2 separate regions of the Homo sapiens genome follow, and region 1 is linked to region 2. Evidence: fine-mapped expression QTL. A gene starts in region 2. The other region holds a variant in brackets. All regions are shown on one strand. Distances are between the middles of the regions.

Region 1 (15,951 bases), 71 kb after region 2:
AGACCTATGTTTTCTTTTAGGAATTTTATAACTTTATGGTTTAACATTTATATTCATGATCCATTTAAAAATTTTTATAAAACATAGGAGATTTGTCAAGTTTCAGTTTTTTGCCTATTGAGTATTCTATACTCATGAGGAGAAAGATACTATATTTACCCTATTTTTCCCCATTTAATTCTGAAATTAAACTTCCTAAAGTTTCAAGCTTTCTTTGGTGGGAAGTAGTCTTTAAGGGTGGGTCTGCTGGACAGAAATTGTTTTTCTTTGTCTAAGAATGTCTTGATTTCCCCTTCATTCCTGAAAGGTATTTTCACTGGCTGTGGAATTCAGGGTTGACAATTATTTTTTTCCAGCATTTGAAATATTTCCATTTTCTTCTGGCCTCTATGAAATGAGAAATCCACTGCCATTCAAGTAATTGTTCCCTTATAGGCAGTCTCCCTATAGCTGCTTTCAAAACTTTTTTGTCTTTAGAAACTTGATTATATTTTGTCTACTTATATTTCGTTGAGTTTATTCTATTTGGGTTTTGTTTAGCTTCTTGAATCTGTAGGCTTATGCCTTTCACCAAAACTTGGGAAATTTTCATCTATTAATTCTTTGAATATTTTTCAGCCCTATACTCTTTTTCATCTGCCCCTATGACTTTGATGACACAAATGTTAGATCTTTTATTTTGGTCCCTCAGGAGATATGTAGAATATATTTCTTATAGATACATATATTCTCTTTGTTGTTCACATTGGGGAAATTCTATTGATCTGTCTTCATATTCACTGAGTCTCCTTCTGTCATCTCTAACCTACTGTTAAACCCATTCAATGAGGTGTTTTTTCAGTTATTGCTTTTTTATTTTTAGTTTTATAATTTTCATTTGCTTTTTTTATACCTTGTTTCTTAGCTAGGATTTTTTTCTTTTCCAGGAGTATTTTAATTTCTTTTTGGAGCATTTTTTGATGGCTGCTTTAAAATCCTTGCCAGACAATTCCAACATCTGAGTTTTCTTGTTGTTGCCATCTATTGATTGTCTTTTCTCATTCAACTTGTGATTTTTGTGGTTCTTGATATATGATAAGTGATTTCCTATTGTACCTTGAAGATTTTGGGTATTATGTTAGGAGATTCAGGATCCTATTTAAGTATTTTTTAGCTGGCATTCACCCTGTTTAGGCTTAGCATACAGATCCAGGCTCACTTTTATGGGCTGTGGTTCCACTGACAATTTAGTTTTTAGAGCCCTTGCAGTGTTATTCTGATAATGCTTTGTTTGTGTGCTACCCACATGAGAAAAATTTGTATTCTGCTTTTGTTGCATGAAGTGTTCTGTATGTGTCACTTTGATCAAGTTGATTGATAGTGCTATTCAGGTCATCCACGGCCTTACTGAGTTTCTGCCTATTTGTTCTATCAGTGACTTAGAGAGGAGTATTGAAATCTCTAATTGTAGATTTATCTATTTTTTTTATTAGTTCTATCAGTTTTTGCCTCGTGTATCTGAAACTCTGTTGTTGGGTGCATATACATTTAGGATTATTATATCTCCTTGGAGAATTGACCTCTTTATCATTATGTAATATCCACTTTTATTTCTGATAAGCTCTTGTTCTGAAGTCTGTTTTGTCTGAAATGAATACAGGTTTTCTAGCTTTCCTTTGATTGCTATTTGTATGATGTATCCTTCTCCATCTCTTTACTTTTGGTCTAAGTCTTTATATTTAAAGTGGGTTTCTTATAGACAGCATGTAGTTGGGTCTTGCTTTTTCATCAAATTTATAATCTATGATGTTTTATTTTTATTTATTTATTTGAGACAGAGTCTTGCTCTGTGGCCCAGGCCGGAGTACAGTGGTGCAATCTTGGCTCACTGCAACCTCTGCCTCCCGGGTTCAAGTGATTCTCCTGCCTCAGCCTCCTGAGTAGCTGGGGCTACAGGCACACACCACCATGCCCAGCTAATTTTTAAATTTTTACTAGAGATGGGGTTTCACCATGTTGGCCAGGCTGGTTTCGAACTCCTGACCTCAAGTGATTTACCTGCCCTGGCCTCCCAAAGTGCTGGGATTATAGGTGTGAGGCACTGCACCCAGCTGCCTTTCCTCATTTAAATTGAGCACTTTTTATGTTTTTATCTCTTCCATTGACTTATTTATACTTTTTAAATATTCCCTTTTTAGTAGTATGTCTAGGATTTAAAGTATACATTTTAAGATAATTTGAATTTGTATACATTTTAAGATAATTTGAATCCATTATCAAATAATTTGCTGTTTCATGTGTAGTGAAAGGACATTATAATAGTATATTCCTGTTTCCTCTTTCCCGTTTGTCATTATTTTCATATGTTTTACTTAGGTGTTTATATGTGCAATAAACACCTAATACATTGTTACTTGAATTGCTTTATCTATTTTCTTTTTTAATGTATCTACTAGATTTTTTTTTTTTTTTTTTTGAGAGGGAGTCTTGGTCTGTCACCCAGGCTGGAGTGCAGTGGTGCAATCTTGGCTCACTGCAACCTCTGCCTCCCAGGTTCAAGCAATTCTCCTGCCTCAGCCTCCCAAGTAGCTGGGATTACAGGCACCTACCACCATGCCCGGCTAATTTTTGTATTTTTAGTAGAGACGGGGGTTTCACCATATTGGCCAGGCTAGTCTCAAACTCCTGACCTTGTGATTGCCCGCCTCAGAAATTTTTAATTGCATATGTGGCTTCTATTATACTTCTGTTGAACAGTGCTGTTCTGGAACTCTAGCTATCATTTATATATCCCTACCTAACTTCTGTCATTTGTTTTTCAACCCTGTTTTTGATCCTGTTAAGTATAGCATGTTCCATTGTGAACTCTTCCTATATGCTGAATCAAAAAAGTATGTCCTACTTTTTATTCCTAGTATCTAGACTGATGGATTTCTAGGCCATTCCATAGCCGTGGAGGAAATACTAGAGTAGGATTGAAGTAGGAAGGGAAGTATGATATACTTTCTTAAGGCCCATGCAAATCATTTTTCCTGCTTTCCTGACATTTATTGTCTACACCAGAGTTTCCCAGTATGGTCTAGGGACTTTGTATTCATCACCCAGGAATCTAGGTGATGTTTATGTACACACTGCACATAACTGCGTTTGGCATTTATTGTCATGGCTTATAGTACTTTTAACTCAATCTCGTCTTCCCATTAAGTTGTGAGATTTTGTTTTGTTTTTTTTATTTGAGACAGAGTCTTGCTCTGTCGCCCAGGCTGGAGTACAATGACACAATCTCAGCTCACTGCAACCTCTGCCTCCTAGGGTCAACCAATTCTCCTGCCTCACTCTCTCCCAAGTAGCTGAGATTACAGGCACCCACCACCACGCCCGGCTAATTTATTGTATTTTTAATAGAGACAGGGCTTCACCATATTGGCCGGACTGGTCTCTAACTCCTGACCTCAGGTGATCCACCTGCCTCGGCCTCCCAAAGTGCTGGGATTAGAGGTGTGAGCCACTATGCCTTGCCCTTTTTTCAGTCATTGTGACTTTCACGTGTAGGTTTGGTTTTTAACATCTTTGCTGACTCACTTGGTTTACCCACGTGGTGTACCATCTAGTGGTAATAGAGAGTCACTTCATTCCACAAGGTTTAAATCTTGTAAGATAACTTGGAATGCTATTATAGGGCAACTTACCGAGATGGAAATTATCAATGAATTTTAAATGTATGTCTAACCAACATTAATATTATATCAAGTTTATGTTACATTGTTCTATATGTATAATTTGTCACACCCCAATATAATTTTAATTATTAGAAAGCTTTATAGCTAATTTAAACATAACATTTGTAATGTTCATGATTTGTTTTACATACTAGGCAAGGGAAACTGCTTAATAACAGAATAAATGACTGATTGTCCAATTTAGGGACTAGACAAGAGGCTGTAGTAGATGCCCTGAAGTAACATTGCCTAGTAAGAGGAATAAAACAAGTAGACAGATTTTGAAAGCATCATAACTGGAGGAGGGTTGTGAAAGGTTTCATGAGCAAAGATGATCCTTTCAAAGGTCATTTAATGGCAATGCTGTGAAAAGACAGTGGCCAAGGCATCCATTCTCAATGCAGAAGATTTACTAAGATCACGGGCCCTGGAGCCAGACTGTCCACGTTCAGATCTGCCACTTAAGAGCTGAGTGATCTTGGGAAGTTATATATCCTTTGAGTCTTAATTCCCCATTTCAACAGTGTCATTCTCTTTTCCTATAGGAAATCTAAGGATATAGTCAACAAAATGACTTTTCACAGTCAAAAATTTTGTGCTGATTCTGATGGCTTCTCACAGGAACTCAGAAATTTTAACCAAGAAGGTACAAAATTGGTTGAAGAATCTGTGAAACACTCTGATAAACTCAATGGCAACCTGGAAAAAATATCTCAAGAGACTGAACAGAGATGTGAATCTCTGAACACAAGAACAGTTTATTTTTCTGAACAGTGGGTATCTTCCTTAAATGAAAGGGAACAGGAACTTCACAACTTATTGGAGGTAATAACTTTGTAAGTGGAACTTACTTTGGGGAGAATAATAATCAGAAAGTTAAATATTCTTGGCTAAGAATAGATTTCAAAACAAATGATATTTTAAGCTATAATGACTTAAACTTTTAAGTATAATATTTGGTATGCTTACAGATGATCTCGTTTTGTGCTTTGTTATATGTCTTCTCAATCTTGGAATTAATTTAACATTTGTACAGTTTCTTTCCTGTATTTATCCTTGGTTTCTGACTTAGTAGTTTCTTCAAAGAAGGGCACCCTGTCTTTTGATATGTAATACCTTCCACTTATATATGCTTTTTTTTTTTTTTTTTTTGAGATGGAGTCTCACTCTGTTGCCCAGGCTGGAGTGCAATGGCACGATCTCAGCTCACTGCAACCTCCGCCTCCCAAGTTCAAGCGATTCTCCTGCCTCAGCCTCTCGAGTAGTTGGGATTATAGGCACCTGCCACCACACCCGGCTAATTTTTTTGTATTTTTAGTAGAGATGGGGTTTCACTATATTGGCCAGGCTGGTGTCAAACTCCTGACCTCATGATCCACCCGCCTCGGCCTCCCAAAGTGCTGGGATTACAGGCATGAGCCACTGCGCCCGGCCTATCTTTGCTTTTTACTTTTCTCCAAGTACATTCAAACCTATTATTATTTTAAGTATTTAGGTTATTGTTCTGGTAACTAAAGGATACTTGATAGGTTTATGGATTTGCTTGAACTTAACGCTTGCATGAGCCCTTTGTAACTTGGTTTTTTCTTTCTTTGCATTAATAGGATTTTACTAACATTCTCAGGAAGTAGGTACAAAGAATTAAAATTTTTAATCTATATAAGCTGTTTTCACTAAAAGGAACTAGAGTTTGTATACAAATAGCTAATTTCAGATTTGTGATAGGAAATGTATAATATATGAGCCTAGAGATCTTGTCATACCAGAGAGTAAGGAAGCTGTTAAAGATTTCTGAGGTTGTCAAAAGGTCTTAGTAGCCAACCTCCCCATCTTCAAAGGTGGCATAATTTGAGCATCAAAAAGAATAATGGCCATAATGGATTAAAACATATCAAATATATTAAAACTTACGAACTCATAAAAATTTCATAGGTCTCCTTTGGATCATGCTAGGGAAGCAACACATTGTCCTGAAAATGGGTAAAGAAGAAGAAAAAATTTAGCATCCATCTGTCTTTCCTAAAAGAACCATATCTTGGTTTAGCAGGGTAATGAAGAAAAGTGTTTCATTAGACTCTAAGCTAATAAAATGGAGAAGAAATGATAGAATTAATATATCACCAGTATGCAACTCTTAATAAAATAACCCCTGTGGATGTTAATGATGGCTTAAACCATTTGATCAAAAGCTGTTGGGGAACTTTATAATTAATAGGCTAACCATACCTGAACTCACTGATAAATCTTAACATGAGAGACACAGCAAAGCATTTTGTGCTTGCAGTACTACCTATGAAATACTCTTGCTAAAAAATTAAACCTGAATTAAATCAAGCCTTTAGGTCTAACCAGTTTGTAGAAAATAAAGCATAGAAATGCAGTTGACCAAATCCAGAATTTGAGATGTTCAATGGGGTAAAGACCTCATGTCTTCAGCAACAAGTTTTTTTTTTCAAGGGAAAAAATATGAGAAACAATAACCTGTATATCAAAAGAGACTTAAGACTAGAGGTCCTTAAGTCTTAGTTTGCCTGAGACAGTCCTTGTTGATATTGTTGTATTAGAATGATTATTAAGAATGGGCCCTTTCACTCCAAAAGGTGTCCCAATTTGGATGATAAATTATATAGTCACCGACTTAAGACCTATGAACCAAATCTAGTGGTGAATTCTGGTTCAAACAAAGCAATTGTGACACACATTTGAGACGACTGGTGAAGTTTGAACATGGACTAGACATTTGATAGGAAGGAATCAGTGTTAACCTTTTTAGATGTGATAGTGGTCTTAAAGTGCTCTTACCTCTTAGAGATACATGCTGAAGTAAATGGATGAAATGATACAGGATTTGTTTCAAAATAATCCTGGGTTTATGGAGGAGTTGAGTGGCCAGTCCTGTTGGTAAATGTCTGTACTCCACTTGTTGGTAAATGTTGAAGCTGGGTAATGAATACAAGGGAGTTAATTATACTGTTCTCTCTACTTTTGTATGTGTTTTTAAATCTTTTATTACTGAAGGCCAGGTGTGGTGGCTCATGCCTGTAATCTTTGGAGGTCAAGGTGGGCAGATTGCTTGAGCCCAGGAGTTTGAGACCAGCTTGGGCAACATGGTGAAATGCCATCTCTTCAAAAAATACAAAAATTAGCCAGGCATGGTGGTACATGCCTGTAGTCCCAGCTACCTGGGAGGCTGAGGTGGGAGGATGGCTTGAGCCTGGGAGGTCAAGGCTGTAGTGAGCACTACTCATGCCACTGCACTCCAGCCTGGGCAACAGAGTGAGACTTGTCTCCAAAAAAAAAAAAAATTATGGAAAAGGTAAGGGAAAATATGATGTTGAATAAAACACTGGCAACTTTAATTTTAGTAATAAATATTTATTTGCATCATTTACAGGTTGTAAGCCAATGTTGTGAGGCTTCAAGTTCAGACATCACTGAGAAATCAGATGGACGTAAGGCAGCTCATGAGAAACAGCATAACATTTTTCTTGATCAGATGACTATTGATGAAGATAAATTGATAGCACAAAATCTAGAACTTAATGAAACCATAAAAATTGGTTTGACTAAGCTTAATTGCTTTCTGGAACAGGATCTGAAACTGGATATCCCAACAGGTACTTTAAAAGAGAAATAGAATTGTTAAATTTTTTGAAGTCGAATTCAACTCTATGTAGTGTCAGATGTTCAGAAAAATTAGGTCCTGCCATTGCCTGACAGAAATTTAACATCTCACTGTAATCAACTCAAAATGGGAAAACTGGAACCTTAAAATAGTTTTAATCAAGTGTCATGATACAGGTGGTATCACAATTCAGTATAATTTCACATACTTTCAGGGAGTTGACTTTGTTAATAGGGGATTTTTTAAAACAAATACAAACCTAGCACTGTTTGTAAAAGGACATTTTAATACCACAAATATGGGAGAGATGTAACTGACTAAATCTAGTTTAATGCAAAGTTTACCACATTGTGCATTTTGTTCTGTGTCCCTCTCATTTTGTCATAGACTATTGCCATTTAGGAATCCCTGTTTTAAGAGATCAGGGATCACCATGGACCATTAGCATTTAGGAATCAACATTTTGAGAGATCACATATGGCAAAGATCATTATAGGCTGTAATGATTCAGGGAGGTCTTCATGGAAGAGATGTAACAAGCTGTTTTACACAGCATGAATAATTGGGTTCTTCATTGGATTATGGTAATGGTTGCACACCCTGTAAACTCACTAAAATCCACTGAATTGTACACATAAAATGAGTGTTTTATGGTAT[G/T]TAAATTATATCACAAAACTCTTTTTTTTTTTTAATTTAAAAAGCAATTGTTAAAAGGGGATGGTGCTACATAGAATGTTGGTTTATTTATTCCCCAAGAGACCTGTAGGATTTACTGTCTACTTTTCAATGAAGTTAGGAATGTAAATGTTGAGTGAAAAGGCAAGTACTTTTGTAAATCATGAGAGCATGAGCTTATTACAGAGAAATATAACTGGGGGCCTGATGCGGTGGCTCACACCTATAATCCCAGCACTTCGGGAGGCAAGGCAGGAGGATCGTTTGAGCCCAGGGGTTCAAGACCAGCCTGGGCAACATAGTATATGTATATAACTAGTTAATATTTAACCACCACACCACATTTATAGTGAAATGATTACTCCTATCAAAGTAATCATGTTGGGAAATCTACTCATTCCAATAATGCTGCCATTTTTTTCAGAACACTATAACTCCTTTTAGAGCTTATAACACATCTTTTATATATCCTCAGAGATGGTAAACTTCATGTTTTAGAGAGTAGGATGAATCTTGAAAACAGTAAAGTCTGTCATCAAATTAGAAAGTATTGTTAGTTGCAAACAATGTCTGACAGGTAGCAAGACTGATCCTCATATATGGCAATTATATTTTTATATTTTTAGAAGACAAGATTAATTAGGAAGTTTTAGGTTTTTTTAAAAATATTTACATCTCATACTTTAATTTTTACCTCTTATCTAATGTCCGTTAAAGGTACGACACCACAGAGGAAAAGTTATTTATACCCATCAACACTGGTAAGAACTGAACCACGTGAACATCTCCTTGATCAGCTGAAAAGGAAACAGCCTGAGCTGTTAATGATGCTAAACTGTTCAGAAAACAACAAAGAAGAGACAATTCCGGTAAATTTAAAGGATCATATTTTATAATAGAACTCTTTTATGAACTCTTGATGTGGCTGACTTCATGTGAAGAATTTTACTGTTTACCCCTCAATCTTACCCCGCCTCTCATTAATGATAGGCCTAGCCCTTAGGCTTGTTTCTTTTAATCTTACTAGTTTTTAAATTATGCTAGTAGATAATAATAGCCAATACTTAATATTGTGCTTAGTAACATTGTTATATAGGAACCTCTACTCTCTATAAAAATATATTAGGAATTATTTTCATTAATTTGTAGACTTTCTAATAATTTTGTTGAGGTTTAACTTTTATATTATACCATGGGCATTGTGTTATACTCAAAGCTGCTGTTACTCTTGTGATGACTTTTAAGCCCTTGGACTTAGTCACTCATCCAGTTTCTTCTTTTAGGATGTGGATGTAGAAGAGGCAGTTCTGGGGCAGTATACTGAAGAACCTCTAAGTCAAGAGCCATCTGTAGATGCTGGTGTGGATTGTTCATCAATTGGCGGGGTTCCATTTTTCCAGGTATGTCATATCAGATAACCCTTCCACATCTGATGTAAGTCATTCATTTACTATTCATTATAAAGGTATTGTTCGTGGTGAGCAGAACAACAAAAACCTTTCAATTATTCCTTAGGATGGCTTGTTAACGCTTATGATTTGAATTATTTACAAAAATCTGATATTGATAAGGGGTTTTCTGTAGAATAAATGAAGGCAGAATTTGACTTAATCTACATCCTTAGCTGATAATCTTTAGCTATTGTATTTATTCCTTTTCTGCTTGCTATATACTCAGACACTGAGAGCAGTCATTTCTCTTCCTTCTACCTTTGACATGTAAGTCTTGGAACCTATCTCTGCCCATAATCAGACTTTGAAGGCAAAGTGATTGAAAAGATTGAGAGACTGGAGGCCTCTTAGGTTATATTAGTGATTTCTCCTGCCTGAGGCTCTTCTCTTGTAAACTGTTGCCCCATGTTTCCTGAGCACCTTGCCTGCTCTAATCCAGTGTAATTAAATCCTGTGACCTCTCCTACCCACTCTTCTTTTTTTTTTGAGACTGAGTCACCCAGGCTGAAGTGGAGTGGCACGATCTTGGCTCACTTAACCTCCGCCTCCTGAGTTCAAGTGATTCTCCTGACTCAGCCTCCCGGGTAGCTAGGATTACAGGCATGCACCACCACACCTGGCTAATTTTTTTGTATTTTTAGTAGAGACAGGGTTTCACTATGTGGGCCAGGCTGGTCTCAAACTCCTGACCTCAAGTTATCTACCCTCCTCGGCCTCCCAAAGTGCTGGGATTACAGGCGTGAGCCACTGTGCCCAGCCCTCTACCCACTTTTTTTTTTCTTTTGAGACGGAGCTTCGCTCTTGTTTCCCAGGCTGGAGTGCAATGGCACGATCTTGGCTCACCGCAACTTCCACCTCCTGGGTTCAAGTGATTCTCCTGCCTCAGCCTCCCGAGTAGCCAGGATTACAGGCATGTGCCACCATGCCTGGCTAATTTTGTTTTTTTTTTTTTTTTTTTTTTTTTTTTTTTTTTTTTTTTTAGTAGAGGGGGTTTCTCTGTGTTGGTCAGGCTGGTCTCGAACTCCCAACTTCAGGTGATCTGCCTGCCTCGGCCTCCCGTAGTGCTGGGATTACAGGTGTGAGCCACCGGCCCGGCCCCTCCTACCCACTTTTTAACACTGTTGAGAACATAGTTGGTTTATGATTCATCTCAGCATTGATGACTGAGTACACAATCAATGTCACCAGTCCCTTAATGTTCTCTATGGGTAAGTAGGAGGATTCCAATGAAATACAACTTCCAAGTGAGGCTCTATAAAGTGCTGGTATCTTTTCCTCTAATTTGAGGGTACAAGCCTAGACAGAGTGTGTGAAGGAAAAATTTCCTTACGTAGGACATTGGTATCTACATTTACAGTTGAAGTTCTACTTCTGAGATGCATATGCTTGTACCTTTTTTTTTTTTTTTTTTTTTTAAATATATATAGAGAGAGGGTCTTGCTATGTTGGCCAGACTGGTCTTGAACTCTTGGCCTCAAGCAGCCCTCCTACCTCAGCCTCCCAAAATGCTAGGATTACAGGCATGAACCACTGCGCCTGGCTGCTTGTACCTTTTTTGTGTGTATGTCTTGTTTTGTTTTTTTGTTTTTGAGACGGAGTTTTGCTCTTGTTGCCCAGGCCAGAGTGCAATTGCCTGATCTTGGCTCACCACAATCTCCGCCTCCCGGGTTCTAGCGATTCTCTTGCCTCATCCTCCCGAGTAGCTGGGATTACAGGCATGCACCACCACACCTGGCTAATATTGTATTTTTAGTAGAGAAGGGGTTTCTCCATGTTGGTCAGGCTAATCTTGAACTCCCGACCTCAGGTGATCCGCCCGCCTCGGCCTCCCAAAGTGCTGGGATTACAAGCGTGAGCCACCGCGCTCGGCCTGTAACTGTTTTTTAATAGATCTACAGCTCCTTCCCTTAAGGTCTAAAGATTCTCCATCCCTGCTTTCAACAGTTAACAAAGTTCCAACTCAGATTCTCATAAATTCCTCCCTGTCTTCCTCTGGGCAATTTTATTCCCAAATTCTTGCCACCTTTTGCTTTATTCCTTACTATTAGAGAACTATAAATATGTTTCTTTCAGTTTTCATCCTTTTCTTCTATCTTATAAAGTTAGGAAAGGGGGAAGGATAAGAGAACCTGGTGACTACTTAATCCCTGGTCAGAAATCGTTTTATTATTATTATCTGTGGCATTTTGAATTAGGCTTAGTGATTCAGCTATGGCAAGGAAGTCCCTACAGTACCAGAAAGGGTTTGGGATGGGGTTTTAGACCTTCAGCTGAAGTCCAGAAATGATCTTTTCCCTAGTAGCAGTGTGATGTGGGGATTTTCTCTGCGTTTAAAACTTTAAAAGTTGGTTTACAATTTGTCTCAGCATTGATGACTGAGTGTACAATGAATGTCACCAGTCCATTAATGTTCTGTATGGGTAAGTAGGATTCCAATGAAATAGAACTTCCAAATGAGGAATATGAAATAGGTTTTACAAATAAAATAAAATACAATTTTAAAAAACAAGTAAAAGTGTTTTTAAGGTGGCCCATATACCAGTTTCTCTGCTTAAAACAGAATTGGCTTTTCTGCATGACAGCAAATCTTTGTTTCCTTAGAGCAGGGTTTCTTGACAGCAGTGCTATTGGCATTTTAAACTGGATAATTCTTTGTTGTGATGGGCTTTCCTGTGGACTGTACTATGTTGGTACACAAGAAAAACAGTGTACTATGTGAATACTCACTCAAAGCCAGTAGCACTCCCTGATTGTAACACCAAAAAAGTCTCTCAGCATTGCCAAATGTCCCCTGTGGCAGCAGAATCACTCCCTGATGAGAACCACTACCCTGGAGTAAAATCTATAACTATGTCTTAGAAAATAACACAGAAAATTAATATTTCTTTCACTCTACTCCTTCCATTAGTGATCAAATAAAGAAGGCATTTGGCGCTACTTGCCAAATTGTTGGCTCAAACTTGTGCTGAACCTTTTTTGGTTTTCTACACTTAAGTTTTTTTGCCTATAACCCAGAGAACTTTGAAAATAGAGTGTAGTTAATGTGTATCTAATGTTACTTTGTATTGACTTAATTTTCCCGCCTTAAATCCACAGCATAAAAAATCACATGGAAAAGACAAAGAAAACAGAGGCATTAACACACTGGAGAGGTCTAAAGTGGAAGAAACTACAGAGCACTTGGTTACAAAGAGCAGATTACCTCTGCGAGCCCAGATCAACCTTTAATTCACTTGGGGGTTGGCAATTTTATTTTTAAAGAAAACTTAAAAATAAAACCTGAAACCCCAGAACTTGAGCCTTGTGTATAGATTTTAAAAGAATATATATATCAGCCGGGCGCGGTGGCTCATGCCTGTAATCCCAGCACTTTGGGAGGCTGAGGCGGGTGGATTGCTTGAGCCCAGGAGTTTGAGACCAGCCTGGCCAACGTGGCAAAACCTCGTCTCTGTTAAAAATTAGCCGGGCGTGGTGGCACACTCCTGTAATCCCAGCTACTGGGGAGGCTGAGGCACGAGAATCACTTGAACCCAGGAAGCGGGGTTGCAGTGAGCCAAAGGTACACCACTACACTCCAGCCTGGGCAACAGAGCAAGACTCGGTCTCAAAAACAAAATTTAAAAAAGATATAAGGCAGTACTGTAAATTCAGTTGAATTTTGATATCTACCCATTTTTCTGTCATCCCTATAGTTCACTTTGTATTAAATTGGGTTTCATTTGGGATTTGCAATGTAAATACGTATTTCTAGTTTTCATATAAAGTAGTTCTTTTATAACAAATGAAAAGTATTTTTCTTGTATATTATTAAGTAATGAATATATAAGAACTGTACTCTTCTCAGCTTGAGCTTACATAGGTAAATATCACCAACATCTGTCCTTAGAAAGGACCATCTCATGTTTTTTTTCTTGCTATGACTTGTGTATTTTCTTGCATCCTCCCTAGACTTCCCTATTTCGCTTTCTCCTCGGCTCACTTTCTCCCTTTTTATTTTTCACCAAACCATTTGTAGAGCTACAAAAGGTATCCTTTCTTATTTTCAGTAGTCAGAATTTTATCTAGAAATCTTTTAACACCTTTTTAGTGGTTATTTCTAAAATCACTGTCAACAATAAATCTAACCCTAGTTGTATCCCTCCTTTCAGTATTTTTCACTTGTTGCCCCAAATGTGAAAGCATTTCATTCCTTTAAGAGGCCTAACTCATTCACCCTGACAGAGTTCACAAAAAGCCCACTTAAGAGTATACATTGCTATTATGGGAGACCACCCAGACATCTGACTAATGGCTCTGTGCCCACACTCCAAGACCTGTGCCTTTTAGAGAAGCTCACAATGATTTAAGGACTGTTTGAAACTTCCAATTATGTCTATAATTTATATTCTTTTGTTTACATGATGAAACTTTTTGTTGTTGCTTGTTTGTATATAATACAATGTGTACATGTATCTTTTTCTCGATTCAAATCTTAACCCTTAGGACTCTGGTATTTTTGATCTGGCAACCATATTTCTGGAAGTTGAGATGTTTCAGCTTGAAGAACCAAAACAGAAGGAATATGTACAAAGAATAAATTTTCTGCTCACGATGAGTTTAGTGTGTAAAGTTTAGAGACATCTGACTTTGATAGCTAAATTAAACCAAACCCTATTGAAGAATTGAATATATGCTACTTCAAGAAACTAAATTGATCTCGTAGAATTATCTTAATAAAATAATGGCTATAATTTCTCTGCAAAATCAGATGTCAGCATAAGCGATGGATAATACCTAATAAACTGCCCTCAGTAAATCCATGGTTAATAAATGTGGTTTCTACATTAACCTGCTTGCTCCATAATTTCTTATCTGGCAATGGGTATATTTAGAGGGTTAGGCAAGCTGCATTCACATTCCCAAAATAAACTATGCAGGTACCACCAAAGAAGAAGGAGCCTAGTAAACTTGCAGGCTTTTAGTTGCACTCCAAGGGGCTATCCTAGGTGCAAGGTTAGTGAGAAGTAGGCCCTCACACAGCCTGAAGTCCAGCTTTAAGTCATCTCATTCCATGACTGTTTAAGTTATCTGAGAATGCTGATGCAACTAATTTCACTGCCTCACAGAAGCAAAAATAAATCTCCAGATAATTTTAACATCCAGAACCATAAATTAGCTCTACCAATTTTCATACACAATGTCGGGCCCTCAGAATGTAACCAAGAGTAGCATCAGCAAAAATGGCCAAGTAGGTAGCTTCAAGGACCTTTTCCTCCACAGAAACATTGAAAAATCAAGCAAAAACATTCAGAAACAACTTTGTCAGAACCCAGGAAAATAGTTTACAGCACCAAGCATTTGCTGAATCAAGAAAAAGGCAACCTAGAAAGAAGGAAAGCTTGGCAGTGTTTTACTTGCCCTTTCCCCATTCTCAGCTCTGCAACAGTCTTGAAGACACAGAACACATTCTCAGCGTGGAGTCCTGGTCTTGGGTTTCTAGGGAGAAGAGAGATTTTTTTTTTTTTTTTTGGAGACAGTCTCACCCTGCCACCCAGGCCAGAGTGCATTGGCATGATCTCGGCTCACTGCAACCTCCCGGGTTCAAGCAATTTGTGCCTCAGCCTCCCAAGTAGCTGGGACCACAGGCACACACCACGACACCTGCTAATTTTTGTATTTTTAGTAGAGACGGGGTTTCACCATGTTGGCCAGGCTGGTCTCAAACTCCTGATCTCAGGTGATCCACCCTTTTCGGCCTCCCAAAGTGCTTGGATTATAGGCATGAGCCACCACATCCAGCCCCAGAGATTTTATTCTTGAAAGATTATGTTTGTTCTGACCTGTCTGGCAGCCTCAAGGACTGACAAAAGGCACCTGCATTTGTTTCGTGTAACTCAGAACTCAGTCATGGTGTGAAATTGGCATGTTTGTCTCTAAATATTGTAAGGCAAATGAACAACCTGCTGCCGCCTGAGGCAAAAAGTTACCGTTGAGGTAAACAAAGGAGTGCCTAAAGCCTGAGAGGAAAGCAGCAGAATTTCTTAGGGAAATTAGGTTATTCAAAAGCACCCATGTATATTGGGGGATTTAGAAAGCCATGCACAGTCCCAGGTCAGTCTGCACATTCAAACCTGAGAAGACCCCAAGATTTCATGTCTGGCTGATGTGTAGGCTCAGTGCAAGCAGGAAGTAAAGGCTAAGGCCAATTTCAGATGGGCCGGATAGGCACTGAAGGTGTGTCCCAACACAGCCAATCAGCAAAAACTGAGGGTTTTTTTCTTCCCTTGTCAATTTTTGGGGCAACCAGTTTTCAAAGAAATCTCATCACACTGGCTGAACGCTAGCAAAAGGAAGACACCTTACAGACCGTGTAAGTCAAAGAACAGAAACTTTACAAAAACAGGTCAGAAAAGTCACTAGGACCGGGTGCTGTGGCTCATGCCTGTAATTTCAGTATTTTGGGAGGCCAAGGTGGGAGGATCACTTGAACCCAGGAGTTCGAGACCTGCCCGGGCAACATAGT
Region 2 (14,710 bases):
GGCTAAAAGGTAGCCTGATCCTCTGGCTACATGTTTAGGAGATATAAAATACCAACAGAAAAACAGAAAGGAAACCAGTGTTTATGAAACATATACTGGGCCTGGCACAGTGGCTCATGCCTGTAACCCCAGCACTTTGGGAGGCAGGGGGATTGCTTCAGCCCAGGAGTTTGAGACCACCCTGGGCAACATGACAAAACCCCATCTCTACCAAAAATACAAAAATTAGTTGTGGGGTGGTGGCATGAGCCTGCAGTCCCAGCTACTCAGGAGGCTGAGGTGGGAGGATCACTTGAACCCAAGAGATGAAGGCTGCAGTGAGCTGAGATCACATCACTGCACTCCAGCCTGGGCGACAGAGTGAAACCCTGTCTCGAACTTTAAAAAAAAGAAAACATACTGAACTTTTTCTCCCCTACCCTGGGGAGACTGTCCCCAACCCTAACTTCTTTTTTTTTAAGACACAGTCTCGCTCAGTCACCCAGGCTGGAGTGCAGTGGCACGATCTCAGCTCACTGCACCTCCGCCTCCTGGGTTCAAGCGATTCTCCTGCCTCAGCCTCCCGGGTTCAAGCGATTCTCCTGCCTCAGCCTCATGAGTAGCTGGGATTACAAGCGCCCACCACCACGCCCGGCTAATTTTTTTGTATTTTTAGTAGAGATGGGGTTTCACCATGTTGCCCAGGCTGGTCTTGAACTCCTGACCTCAAGTGATCCCCCCGACCTCGCCCTGTCAAAGTGTTGGGATTACAGGCATGAGCCACCCCACCTGGCCTCAACCCTAACTTTCAAGACAGGCAGAATGTGTGGATTAGGTTAAAGAAACTTCAGGGGTACCCTGTTCTTTTACACTATTAAAAGGCATTTTTCTGATTGACAGTAGTTTAAAAGCTTGAATGTTGATAGTCCCAACTGACATACCACTGTTTCCTAAGCCTATGGAACAGGGAAATGCAAAGTAGGGCTGCCTGCAAAGTGAGATGACTGATGCCCAGGTGGCTCAAGTTGTTGCCAGGGAATGGGCTATTATCTCCAGGTGCCCCAGTAGTTCAGATAATTCCACACAGTCCCAAGTTATAAAATACAGCTGAACACAGAACAAGGAGGTTACTCTGTAAATGGATTGATCTTACATAAATGCTTTAAGACCATCTCTGTCTCAAGAGGTTAGACCAGAAAATGAATGCCCAAATACCAGCAGAGGCAGTACTTGTGTTTGCAAATACATAACAGTTAAGAGCTCAGGCTCCGATGCCAGATAGACATGGGTTAAATCCCAGCTCTTCCAGCAAATAGCTGTGTGGCTATCTCTGTTAAGACATTCTTCCGACTATGTACAGTAGGGCTGATTGCATTCCTTAAGATGAGAATATGTGGTAGCTTCAGATGTTAGTGCTTTCCTTCCTAAAACTATGCCCTAATCCCTTTGGTTGGACCTGTATTTTCCTCAAAAGCCTCACTCACTGATTTTAGGGTAGAGCTTTCTAGCTGGCTCATCTCATTCATTATGCTTTGAATCTCTCAAATTTCCATCTTTGAGAAAAACATATCTTAAAACTCTGGATGGTCGACCGGACTTTATAACTACAGAGAAAATGTAATTTTAACTAGAACATACAAACCACTTAGTTATACAAAACTTAAAATTGGTGCTTTCTTTAAAAATCACAAATGCTATATGCTGGAGACAGTATGGAGACAGCTAAGCCTAGCCTATCAGTAATGAATTTAGAACAAAAGCAGACTGACACAAAAGAGGACAAAAGGAGGCATCCTGCCTGTGCTTACCACCTGATTCTCTAAGTTCAGGGGTCTTTTGCACATTATAGGAGATTTTGTGATGTAGTGGAAAACAGAGGAGAACAAGTTCCATAGAGTCTTCATTTGTATTAGCTTATCTTAGTGCCCCACTGCTACCATCCTAATACAGGCAGTAAAGACTAAGTCCCAACAGGTTTCTCTGCCTTAGGACTCTCTCCACTTCCTGACATCCTGCACACAGCCACCAAACTACTTTCCTAAACCCCCAGTTCCATCAGATAACTTTCCAGCTCAAAAACTTTAATGGCTCCCTACCTACTACGCATTGGGAAAATCCCAACTAAAATTCAAGACCCAGGCCAGCATTACCCTACTGTTATAATACAGGACTTGTGTCCTTCTAATTACCCCAAGGAAATTCTATAAAGCTTCAACCAGACTAATCGGCTCACTGCTCCCCCAACACAAACTGCCCGCATATCTAGGCTGGATTACGCCCACGCCAGCCCTCACTCCAACCTTTCTGCCATTCCTTCCAAAGCCAGCCTACCCCCCCATCTCTGGCCCCACACACTACCCATACTACCCATCTTCTGACCCTCATCAACACACCCTTGTAGCTATCTCAATTCCCGTGGCATCCCAATCCGCTCCAATCAAGTCAAAGTTCCTTGGAAGGCAGACACATACTTTACATAGAGGGTCCAGCACAGTGCCCTGCACTTAGTAGGTGCTGGCTATTACTGATTAAAACCAGCAGGGGTTCAAATAACGTTTCTAGGGAGGGCAAGATAATACTGCCTATCTTCTTCCATTCGTAGTAAAAAGTATTCAGCGTTCACTACAAGCCTGAAAACGCCTAGCGTACGCAGATCAACGGTGCAGTGGAGAGGGCACGCCGCCGGATGGCAAAAAACCTGTGTCCTAATCCTGGTTTTGCCACAATCTCGGCAGTTGCTGGGAAATCAAGCCATCTCTCGGAGCTCCGGTTGTCTCCGACGTAAAACAAGGGAGCTGCTGTAGAGGATCCCGAGGTATCTTTTGGCTCCTAAATGTCCCCCGATAGGAAACCCCACACTCGTCTTCCAAGGCGGGAGGCAGGCAAACTTTTTTCCCAGCGCGGGCATTCCACACGGTCCTGGAAACTCAGTGCCCGGAGAAAAGGGCAGGGCTGAGGGCAAGGTGAGAAGCGGTCCCCCCGAAGTCGCCGGATTCCTTTACCCCACGGCTCGAGTCCGCCTCAGGTTCCCGGCCCCCTCACAGGCGGACTCCGGGAGAGTGACGCGGCGCGGCTCCCAGGTGCAGGCCGGGTGACTCTGTCCGCCCCTGCGCCCCCCGCACTAGTGGCACACGCCCCGTGGCCCCGGGTAGCGGCCCCGGCCCCTCACCAGCCCAAGGGACGTCCCCGACTCTGGACCAGGCCTCTGGCTCCCGCCTGGCGAGCCGCTCTTCCGGGCCCTGGGGCGGCCTCAGCGCGGCAGTACGGGCCCCAGGCCGGCGGGACGGGCGGCGTGAGGGGCAGCGGTGGCGGCTTTAAGTGCTGAATCACCACTTTGCAACCCGAGCGCCAAACCGCTGTGACCCACGGGGCCCGAGGGCCCGGGCGCTCCATTCCGCTTACCCACACAGGCGCTCCGGAGGCGGCAGGCGGGCGCCGAGGACTGAGCGGAAGGTGCTGGGCAGTGCGGGGTGCAGAAGCCACGCTAGCCGGTACCGCATTAGCCAGCGCAGTCGCCGGGATCACCGCAAACGCTTCCTGCTTGCGCTTCGAGCCGGCCCTGCGCACTGCGCATGCTCTAGCCGCGGCGCCGCGCGGTCTCCCGGGAGCTGCGGAGAGGTAGCTGCTCCGGGTTTTGCCTGGAGCCGGATGGGGCCAGGACGCAGGCGAGGACGGTGAAGACCGCGGACAGCCGAGGCCTGAGCAGGCGGACTGGAGGGACAGGGGTTTGGCCGGGGCGCTTTAGGAGCCAGCACCCAGACTTTCCCAGGCGGGGAGGGTCCCAGCTAGATCCCACCGGCCGCACTTGTGAGGGTGGCGACGTGTGTCTGACTGTGAGGGGGCGAGGGGCCGCTCATAAATCCAGTGAGGGCACACGGGGCTATGTTTTCTGAGGCACCCCCACTGACTAGCGTGCCGGACCCTGCAGGTGTTGGAACAAGGTTCGTGGTCGCGGCGGCCTCACGTAAAATGAATCCGCGGCCGGCGCGCGGCCCGCGGGCTCCCTCTAGAGCGCGGTGGGGACGTGGACCGCGAAGGCACAGATGCGCTGGAGACAAGGCTCGAGTGCGGCGTGGGGGAAATTCAGACGCAGGGGTCAGCGATAGAGAGGCCAGGACCCAGGGGGACGTTTCCATCCTTGGGGAAGTTAGCAGCTCTCTTAAGAGGAAGGTGCGGATGGGACGGGCGCCGCAGCAAAACAAGGCTTCAAATCCAGAGTAGAAACTACTACTCTTGTTAGTACTCCGTACTAGGAATACTACTAATGTCAGTCGGCTTCAGTGGTTACTTTTTAAACAAAGAATTTTCTCCCCAGTGGCTTTATGGGGCTTTGCACCCACGAACAACTTAATAGTTGTTATGAATCTAACTTTCCATAATACCTTATGGGAGTCTTTAAGGAAGAATGCTATTAGGGATGGTGACTTGCCAGCTTAAGTACTTTTAGGTTTCTGATTGACAGACGATCAAGACTGCAGCCAAAAACGGTGTCCTTAGTCCAAGTATTGCTTTAAATGGGAATTCAGTAGGAGGGTTCCTTAATCAAGTTGATGCTTTATCGAAGACGTACCCACGATCTTTTTAACAGTGCGGTTTCACCTAAAGGCAAACCTTTGGATGAAAACAGGTAAAAATTATGGCAAGCCTCCTAGTGGTGTTTGCAAGTGCATGGTTTTAAGAACCTTTAAATTACCAGTCCCAATGCAGAGTAGTCAATCACCTTGAAGCAGCTCCTCTGAGAGTGTTAATGCAGCCTTTCTGAATACATTTATGCTCCATTAATGGAATCTATAAATGGGCTGGGGTAGATTCAGACTTGGAGGGCTTGAAACATATACAATTTGGGGGACCTCTTTGAGACATAAAATACAAATTATAAATACAAAATTAGCAATCAGAAGATTACTATAGAGAGAAAATACATCACAACAAATACTCGAGACTTGGAGATTAGTACCCTTTTTTTTCCTGAGATCTCTTTAGGCTACTTATTAGAAATGCTTACATAAAAATGCTTCCAGATGGCCGGGCGTGGTGGCTCATGCCTGTAATCCCAGCACTTTGGGAGGCCAAGCCGGGCGGATAACGAGATCAGGAGTTCGAGACCAGCCTGACCAAAATGGTGAAACCCCGTGTCTACTAAAAATACAAAAATTAGCCAGGCGTGGTGGCATGCGTCTGTAATCCCAGCTACTGAGGAGGCTGAGGCAGGAGAATCACTTGAACCCTGGAGGCGGAGGTTGCAGTGAGCCAAGATCACGCCACTGCACTCCAGCCTGGGCAACAAAATGAGACTCTATGTCTCAAAAAAAAAAAAAATGCTTCCAGACAACAACTGGCTTTCCCTCTACAACTCCCAGTTTGGAGCCTGTGCAAGTGAGCAGCCCTGAAGTTTAAACTTCATTAGCTTCATGATAAATTTCCCTCTGGTTGGAGTAGATGTCCTGGATAAGAAAGATTAATATTAATATAGTCTCATAACTATCATCTCAATAAAGAGGAGGTGGATGGAAAGAAAAGTAACAATTTTGAGAGTCTACTCTGTGTCTGGCATTGTACATGGCTCCTTCATTAGTCATCATGACCACCCTCTGTAATGGATATTTCCTCACCTACCAGAGATGAGGAAGCTGTGGCAGAGAGAGGTTGAGTAACTTGCCAACAATTGGACAAAAAGAGTGGAGTTGTAATTTGAACCCAGGACTGTCTTATTCCAAAACCTGTGATTTGCTCATCTCATTTATGACTTGACAAATATTTGTTGAATGCCTTACAGATACCAGGTATTATAAAGGTGCTGGGAATACAGCAGTGGACAAAAAAGACAAAAGTTTCTGTCTTGATGGAGATTACCTTCTAGCTGTGTGGGAAAAACAGATAATAATCAAGTGAGTAAGTGATATGAAGGAACAGGTGGTCAGGAAAGGCCTCTTTGAGGAAGTGACATTCAGGCAGACCCCAGAATGATGAGAAAAAGTAGGAAATGTGAAGGTCTAGGGTGTAATCTTTCCCACTCTCACTCAAACAAGTATAAGGTGTAAACCACCTAGACAACTTTTTTTTCTTTTCTTTCTTTTTTTTTTTTTGATGGAGTCTCGCTCTGTCACCAGGCTGGAGTGCAGTGGCGCGATCTCGGCTCACTGCAACCTCCACCTCCCGGATTCATGTGATTCTCCTGCCTCAGCCTCCAGAGTAGCTGGGACTACTGGCGCACGCCACCATGCCCAGCTAATTTTTGTATTTTTAGTAGAGACGGGATTTCACCATGCTGGCCAGGATGGTCTCGATCTCTTGACCTCATGATCCCCCCTACCTCAGCTTCCCAAAGCGCTGGGATTATAGGCGTGAGCCTCCATGCCCGGCCTACAACTTTTTTAGAAGCAGAAAAAGTAATGTGCTGAAGTCATTCTTTGCCTTAGATAGGAAAACTAGACACATATTCAAATATAAGTATTCTGATATACTGGAAGCCAAATATTAGTGTTTATCTGTGCTGTAAGTTCCTTCCATTAGCCCAGATAGAATAGAGTTCACCATAGAGCTGAGTCAGGAGTTCCTAATGATTGAAAGAAAAAAACTTAAAAAGGAAGCCCAGTGGTGACAGATTGGCGTTTATTTCCTAATTGGTAATGTTCAGAAAAATAATATCTTTTGTCCCCCCAGATGTTTTAGCAGAGGAAAGAAAAGGAATTTTTTTTTTTTTTTTGAGGCGAAGTTTTGCTCTTGTCACCCAGGCTGGAGTGCAATGGCATGATCTTGGCTCAGCGCAACCTCCGCCTCCCAGGTTCAAGCAAATCTCCTGCCTCAGCCTCCCAAGTAGCTGGGATTACAGGCATGCGCCACCACACCCAGCTAATTTTTGTGTTTTTAGTAGAGACGGGTTTCTCCATGTTGATCAGGCTGGTCTCCAACTCCCAACCTCAGGTGACCCGCCTGTCTTGGCCTCCCAAAGTGCTGGGATTACAGGCGTGAGCCACCGCGCCCGGGCAAGAATTTTTTTTTTTTTTTTTTTTAAATAGGCCGGGTGCAGTGGCTCACACCTGTAATCCCAGCTCTTTGGGAGGATGAGGCAGGTGAATCACTTGAGGTGAGGAGTTTGAGACCAGCCTGGCTAACATGGTGAAACCCTGTCTCTACAGAAAAATTAAAAAATTAGCTGGGCATGATGGTGTGCACCTGTGTCCCAGCTACTTGGGAGGCTGAGGCACAAGAATCGCTTGAACCTGGGAGGCAGAGGTTGCAGTGAGCTGAGATCGTGCCACTGCACTCCGGCCTAGGTTACAGAGTGAGACCCTGTCTCGAAAATAAAACTTAAAATGTCTTTTGAGACTGGGCACAGTGACTCACGCCTGTAATCCCAGCACTTTGGGAGGCCAAAGTGGGCGGATCACCTGAGGTTGGGAGTTCGAGACCAGCCTGACCAACAGGGAGAAAACCCGTCTCTACTAAAAATACAAAATTAACTGGACATGGTGGCGCATGCCTGTAATCCCAGCACTCGGAAGGCTGAGGCGGGAGAATTGCTTGAACCCGGGAGGCGGAGGTTGCGGTGAGCCGAGATGAAGCCATTGCACTCCAGCCTGGACAACGAGTGAAACTCCATCTCAAAAAAAAAAAATGTCTTTTGAACTAATCTAGCCTATTGTTATATATTCAAAATCAAAATCTGAATTCTGAATCCACCAACTCAAAATTTTGTACAAATAGCTAAAGAGAAAGCATACCTAGGTAGTTAATAACAAAGGAAAATTTAAAGTTAGGGCCAGACGCGGTGGCTTATGCCTGTAATCCCAACAATTTGGGAGGCAGAGGTGAGAGGGTGCTTGAGCTCAGGAGTTCAAGACCAGCTTTGGCTACATAGTCAGGCCTTGTCTATATAAAAAAATAAAAACTAAATTAGGCAGCAGGTGCAGTAGCTCATGCCTGTAATGCTAGCACTTTGGGAGGCCAAAGCAGGAGGATCACTTGAGCTTAGGAGTTCGAGACCAGCCTGGGCAACATAGACCTCATCTCTATTTAAAATAAAGATAAAATCAAAACAAAACAAAAAATTAGCCGGGCATGGTGGTGCATGCCTGCGGTCCCAACTACTCTGGATGTTGAGGTGTGAGGATGGCTTGAGCCCAGGAGGTGGAAGTTGCAGTGAGCCAAAATCATGCCACTGCACTCCAGCCTGGGCAAGACTGCCAGACCCTGTCTCAAACAACAATTCTTACAAGACCTTAAACATTTTTCATAAACATCATTTTTATTTGTATTATTTTTTAAGGCTCTTGAGCAATGCCAATTCTTTAATGAACAGCTGAGGAACATTGGTTTTAGCCATCAATTTTCTTTTTCTCAAAAGAAAAATGTCTCAAAAGACATTTTTTTTTTAATTGAGACAGAGTCTCACTCTGTCACCCAGGCTGGAGTGCAATGGTGTGGTCTTGGCTCACTGCAACCTCTACCTCCCAGGTTCAAGCGATTCTCCTGCCTCAGCCTCCTGAGTAGCTAGGATTATAGGCACCTGCCACCACGCTCAGCTAATTTTTGTATTTTTAGTAGAGACAGGGTTTCACCATGTTGGCCAGGCTGGTCTCAAACTCCTGACTTCAGGTGATCCACCCACCGCAGCCTCCCGAAGTGCTGGGGTTACAGGCATGAGCCACTGCACCCGGCCTTTTTTATCTTTTTAAAACGGGGTCTCCCTCTGTGGCCCAGGCTGGAGTGCAGTGGAGTGATCTCAGCTCACTGCAACCTCTGCCTCCCGGGTTCAAGCGATTCTCCTGCCTCAGCCTCCCAAGTAGCTAGGACTACAGGCATGAGCCACCACGCCCTGCTGATTTTTTTGTATTTTTAGTTGAGACTGGGTTTCACCATGTTGGCCAAGCTGGTCTCGAACCCCTGACCTCAGGTGATCTGCCCACCTCGGCCTCCCAAAGTGCTGGGATTACAGGCATGAAAACCACCGCACCCAGCCTTATTTTATGTGTCTTAATTTTCTCATTTATCTCTCTCACTAACATGTAAATACCACAAGCATAGAAACCTGGTTGCTCTTTTCTCTGGTGTATCCTCAACATTGAAAGCAAGCCCTGGGCCCATAATATTTGTTGAATGCATAAATCAAGAGTTGTCTTAACTGTGTGTGGAAAATACGAATTATAGATCCTGCCCATAAAGTAACTCAAATTTACCTTTAAGGACTAGCAAAGATGAGTCATTTAGGAAAACTCCTAACAAACAAATTTATAATTAATCACTTATCTATAAAACATTTTTAAAAATTCATGTTGCTTTTAGGTATTTTATTACCATAGTATTGTACTTAAAACTAATATACATTTTAAAACTTTTTATTGGGAGGGGCACGGTGGCTCACGCCTGTAATCCCAGCACTTGGGGAGGCTGAGGCGGATGGCTCACCTAAGGTCAGGAGTTCGAGACCAGCCTGGCCAATGTGATGAAACCCTGACTCTACTAAAAATACAAAAAATTAGCCGGGTACAGTGGCAGGCGTTTGTAGTCCCAGCTACCCAGGAGGCTGAGGCAGGAGAATTGCTTGAACCCAGGAGGCAGAGGTTGCAGTGAGCCAAGATCATGCCATTGCACTCCAGCCTGGGCAACAAGAGCAAAACTCTGTCTCATTAAAAAAAAGAAAAAAAGAAAAAAAGCTGGGCATGGTGGCTCACGCCTGTAATCCCAGCACTTTGGGAGGCCGAGGTAGGTGGATCACCTGAGGTCGAGAGTTGGAGACCAGCCTGACCAACATGGAGAAGCCCCGTCTCTATTAACACAAAATTAGCCAGGTGTGGTGGTGCATGCCTGTAATCCCAGCTACTCAGGAGGCTGAGGCAGGAGAATTGCTTAAACCTGGGAGGTGGAGAGTGCAGTGAGCTGAGATTGCGCCATTGCACTCCAGCCTGAGCAACAAGAGCGAAACTCTGTCTCAAAAAGAAAAAAAAAAAGAAAAAAGAGAAAACTTTGTATTATGGAACAAGTAGTCAAACATAAACAAAATAAAAGAAAATAGTATAACTATTCCAGGCAAAATATGATTTTAGAATTCTATAGCCCAATAATGTCAACATAGATTTTGTGATTTAGGATAAAAACATTTTGAAAAATACGATTTTAGAATTCCACAGCCAAACAATGTCCATAAATAAATACCCCAGGCATCCATTCATTATTCAGCTTCCATAATTACCAGTTCATGGCCAATATTGTTCTATCTTTTCCTCCAACTCCCTCAACCTCCACTAAATTATTCTGAACCAAATACCGGGCATCATATTATTAATATTTCATCTCAGTATTTCAGTATATGTCTCAAAGGACTTAAAGAAAATCCACAGGCACTAACATACTTAAAACATTAAGATAATTATTTAATATAATCAAATATGTAGTCAGTGTTCCCACTTTCCTGAGTGTTCCCACTTTCCTGATTGCCTCAAATGTTTCTTTTTCACAATGGGTTTGTTCAAATCAGGATCCAAACAAGAACAAAACACTTCATTTAATTAATATGTTTCCTTTTTTTATTTTGTTTTGTATCTTTTGAAGATGATCTTTTTTGAAGAGTTTATTGAAGTATTGCAAACAGAAAAGTAAACAAGTGATAAGTGTACAGCTCAGTGAATTTTCAAAAACTGAACACATCCCTGTAAACACACCCAGAAGCTCTGCCTTATTCTCCGTTTCAGTCACTGTCACCCCAAGGGTAAACACTAACCTGACTTCTAACACAATAAATTAGTTTTGCCTGGATTACAGTTTAATATAAATGCACTCATACAGTATATACTCTTTTGGGTCTGGCTTTGTTTAACTATCTGGTGAGATTTATCCATATTTTTTAGAATAATTTTTGTTTGTTCACTTTCTTTTCTTTTCTTTCTTTTCTTTTTTTTTTTTTTTTTTTTTTTGAGACAGTCTCACTCTGTTGCCCAGGCTGGAGTGCAGTGGCGTGATTTCAACTCACTGCAACCTCTGCCTTTCAGGTTTAAGTGATTCTCCTGCCTCAGCCTCCCAAGTAGCTTGGATTACAGGGGCCCACCACCATGCCCTGCTAATTTTTTTTTTTTTTTTTAGTAGAGACCGGGTTTCACAATGTTGGTCAGGCTGGTCTTGAACTCCTGACCTCAGATGATCCTCCTGCCTCAGCCTCCCAAAGTTCTGGGATTACAGACATGAGCCACCGCGCCGGCCTGTTTGTTTACTTTTTTTTTTGAGATGAAGTCTCACTCTGTCAGCAGGCTGGAGTGCAGTGGTGCAATCTTGGCTCACTGCAACCTCCGATTCCCTGGTTTAAGCAATTCTGTCTCAACCTCCCAAGTAGCTGGGATTACAGGCATGCGCCACAATGCCCAGCTAATTTTTTGTATTTTTAGTAGAGACGGGGTTTTCACTGTGTTAGCCAGGATGGTCTCAATCTCCTGACCTCAGGTGATCCACCTGCCTTGGCCTCCCAAAGTGCTGGGATTATAGGCGTGAGCCACCGTGCCTGGCCCATAGCTTGTCAATTCTAAATCTTTTATTTATTTATTTATTTATTTATTTATTTATTTTGTTTGTTTGTTTGAGACGGAGTCCTGCTCTGTCACCCAGGCTAGAGTGCAGTGGCAGAATGTCGGCTCACTGCAACCTCTGCCTCCCGTGTTCAAGAGATTCTCCTGCCTCAGCCTCCTGAGTAGCTGGGATTACAAGTGCATGCCACTATGCCTGGCTAATTTTTGTATTTTTAGTAGAGATGGGGTTTCACCATATTGGTCAGGCTGGTCTCAATCTCCTGACCACACAATCCATCCGGCTCGGCCTCCCAAAGTGCTGGGATTACAGGCATGACCCACCACGCCTGGCCAATTTTTGTATTTTTTTAGTAGAGATGGGGTTTCGCCATGTTGGTCAAGCTGGTCTTAAACTCCTGACAGGTGATCCATCTGCCTTGGCCTGCCAAAGTGCTAGGATTACAGGCGTGAGCCACTGCACCTGGCCTCTCCCTCCTCTTTTTTATTTTGCAATTTATTTGTCAAAGGAGTTGAGTCATTTATCCTATAGTGTTCCCAACATTCTAAATTTTGCTGACTGTATTCTTTTTATTTTTATTTTTTTGAGATGGAGTTTCGCTCTTGCTGCCCAGGAGCAACAAGAGGAGTGCAATGGAGTGACCTCGGCTCACTATAACCTCCGCCTCCTGGGTTCAAGTGATTCTCCTGCCTCAGCCTCCTGAGTAGATGGGATTACAGGCGTGCACCACCAAGCTCGGCTAATTTTTTTGTATTTTTTAGTAGAGACGGGGTTTCACCACGTTGCCCAGGCTGGTCTTGAACTCCTGACCTCAAGCGATCCACCCGCCTCAGTCTCCCAAAGTGCTGGGATTCCAGGCGTGAGCCAGCGTGCCCAGCCTGCTGACTGTATTCTTACAATGTGACTTAACATGTTTGTTTCTTATATTTCCTGTAAATGGTAGTTACATCCACCGATTTGATCAGATTCAGCAAATATGCATTTGAGAAGTGTTTACTAAGCACTGTGCTTGCTGCTAGGTGGGATACAAAAATGACTAAGACATCACTCCTAATCTATTGTTTATTATGAATATGAAAGGTTAAGGCCAGGCGTGGTGGCTCACACCTGTAATCCCAGCACTTTGGGAGGCTGAGGCAGCTGGATCACTTGAGGCCAGGAGTTGGAGACCAGACTGGCCAACAATGCAAAATCCCGTCTCTACTAAAAATACAAAAAGTAGCGGCTGGGCGCGGTGGCTCACACCTGTAATCCCAGCACTTTGGGAAGCTGAGACAGGCGGATCACCTGAGATCAGGAGTTCGAGACCAGCCTGACCAACATGGAGAAACCCCCGTCTCTACTAAAAATACAAAATTAGCCGGGTGTGGTGGTGCAGGCCTGTAATCCTAGCTACTCGGAAGGCTGAGGCAGGAGAATCACTTAAACCTGGGAGGTGGAGGTTGCAGTGAGCTGAGATTGCACCCTTGCACTCCAGCCTGGGCAACAAGAGCAAAACTCTGTCTCAAAAAAAAAAAAAAAAAAAACTAAAAATACAAAAAGCAGCCGGGTTTGGTGGTGCACACCTGTAGTCCTAGCTACTTGGGACACTGAGGCAGAAGACTCCCTTGAATCCGGGAGGCAAAGGCTGCAGTGAGCCGAGATCATGCCACTACACCCCAGCCTGGGTGACAGAGTGAGACCCTGTCTGCCTGTTTTTTTGTTTGTTTGTTTTGTTTTTGTTTTTTCTGAGACTGAGTTTTGCTCTTGTTGCCCAGGCTGGAGTGCAATGCCATGATCTCGGCTCACGGCAACTTCTGCCTCCCAGATTCAAGCAGTTCTCCCGCCTCAGCCTTCCAAGTAACTGAGATTACAGGCATGTGCCACCATGCCCAGTTAATTTTGTATTTTTAGTAGAGACAGAGTTTCTCCATGTTGGTCAGGCTGGTCTTGAACTCCCGACCTCAGGCGATCTGCCAGCCTCGGCCTCCCAAAGTGCTGGGATTACAACTGTGAGCCACCATGCCTGGCAGGGCAGGACTTTTTAAATTCATTTTTGTGACTATCACAGGGTATGCACCTAAGCTCAGTAAACATTTGTTGAGTAATTAAAACCAGCTAAAGGTGTTTTTGTTTTTTGTTTTTTTTGAGACGGAGTCTTGCTCTGTCACCCAGGCTGGAGTGTAGTGGTGCAATCTCAGCTCACTACAAGCTCCGCCTCCCGGGTTCATGCCATTCTCCTGCCTCAGCCTCCCAAGTAGCTGGGACTACAGGCGCCCGCCACCACACCCAGCTAATTTTTTTTGTACTTTTAGTAGAGATGGGGTTTCACCGTGTTAGCCAGGATGGTCTCGATCTCCTGACCTCGTGATCCACCTGCCTCGGCCTCCCAAAGTGCTGGGATTACAGGCCCGAGCCACCGCTCCTGGCCCCCATTTTTTTTTTCAAGATAAGATCTTGCTCTGTCACCCAGGCTGGAGTGCACTGGTATGATAATGACTCACTGCAGCCTCACCTCCCAGGCTCAAGTGATCCTCCCAGCTCAGCCTCCCGAGTAGTTGGGACCACAGGTGAGTGCCACCATGGCTGAGACTATTTTCATTTTTTGTAGAGATGAGGTCTGGAGAGTCTTGGAAGAATTCTTACGTTAAATAAAAATTCAGGATGCAAAATTCTATATCCAGGTTGAGCATAGTGGCTTACCCCTGTAATCCCAGCACTTAAGGAGGTAGAGGCAGAATGATAGTTTGAGTCCACGATAGTTTGAGTCCAGGAGTTCAAGACCTGCCTGGGCAACATAGTGAGACTCTGTTCTCCATAAAAAGGGGGGGAAAGACCAAAAAAACCCTATATATTCAATTATGATCTCAATTACTGAAAATATACAAATAGACAACTGGAAAGAAATACATCAAAATATTAATGGTAGTAATTGCTGGGTGGTAGAAATCTGCTATCTCTATACAGGAGTTCCAGAAAGAAACAACAGACGTGGCAAGTGAAATAGTCAATGAATAATTCAAAAACATTTCCCAGACTGAAGGTAACAACTTGCCAGACTGTGGCTCAGCCCAATTAATGAAAGTAGATGCACACATTGGCTGGGCATGGTGGCTCACACCTGTAATCCCAGCACTTTGGGAGGCCAAGGCGGGCGGACCATGAGGTCAGGAGATCGAGACCATCCTGGTTAACATGGTGAAACCCCGTCTTTACTAAAAACACAAAAAATTAGCCG

Which allele goes with the higher level. Positions count from the first base shown, and alleles are read on the strand shown. Sizes are in standard deviations (SD) of each study's normalised expression.
With allele G in place of T in region 1, the expression in transverse colon of the gene that starts at base 3,553 in region 2 is higher (small effect, 0.37 SD a copy in GTEx).

The links.
Region 1: its variant is fine-mapped to the expression of IDE in transverse colon (GTEx, PIP 0.99).

The regions. Positions count from the first base shown.
Region 1 is chr10:92,641,120-92,657,070 of GRCh38, forward strand. KIF11 (kinesin family member 11) reads left to right here. Exons shown (of 22, transcript NM_004523.4): 18 at 4,244-4,523; 19 at 7,093-7,315; 20 at 8,716-8,867; 21 at 9,282-9,398; 22 at 12,546-14,276. The coding sequence ends at 12,677. Among named protein-coding and RNA genes, the nearest start is that of HHEX, 41 kb to the right of the region's middle. The variant G/T (reference allele first, on the strand shown) is at 7,981.
Region 2 is chr10:92,570,541-92,585,250 of GRCh38, forward strand. IDE (insulin degrading enzyme) reads right to left here and starts at 3,553. Exons shown (of 25, transcript NM_004969.4): 1 at 3,382-3,553. The coding sequence starts at 3,479. RefSeq lists a silencer at 2,953-3,402 and enhancers at 3,903-3,962, 3,973-4,212.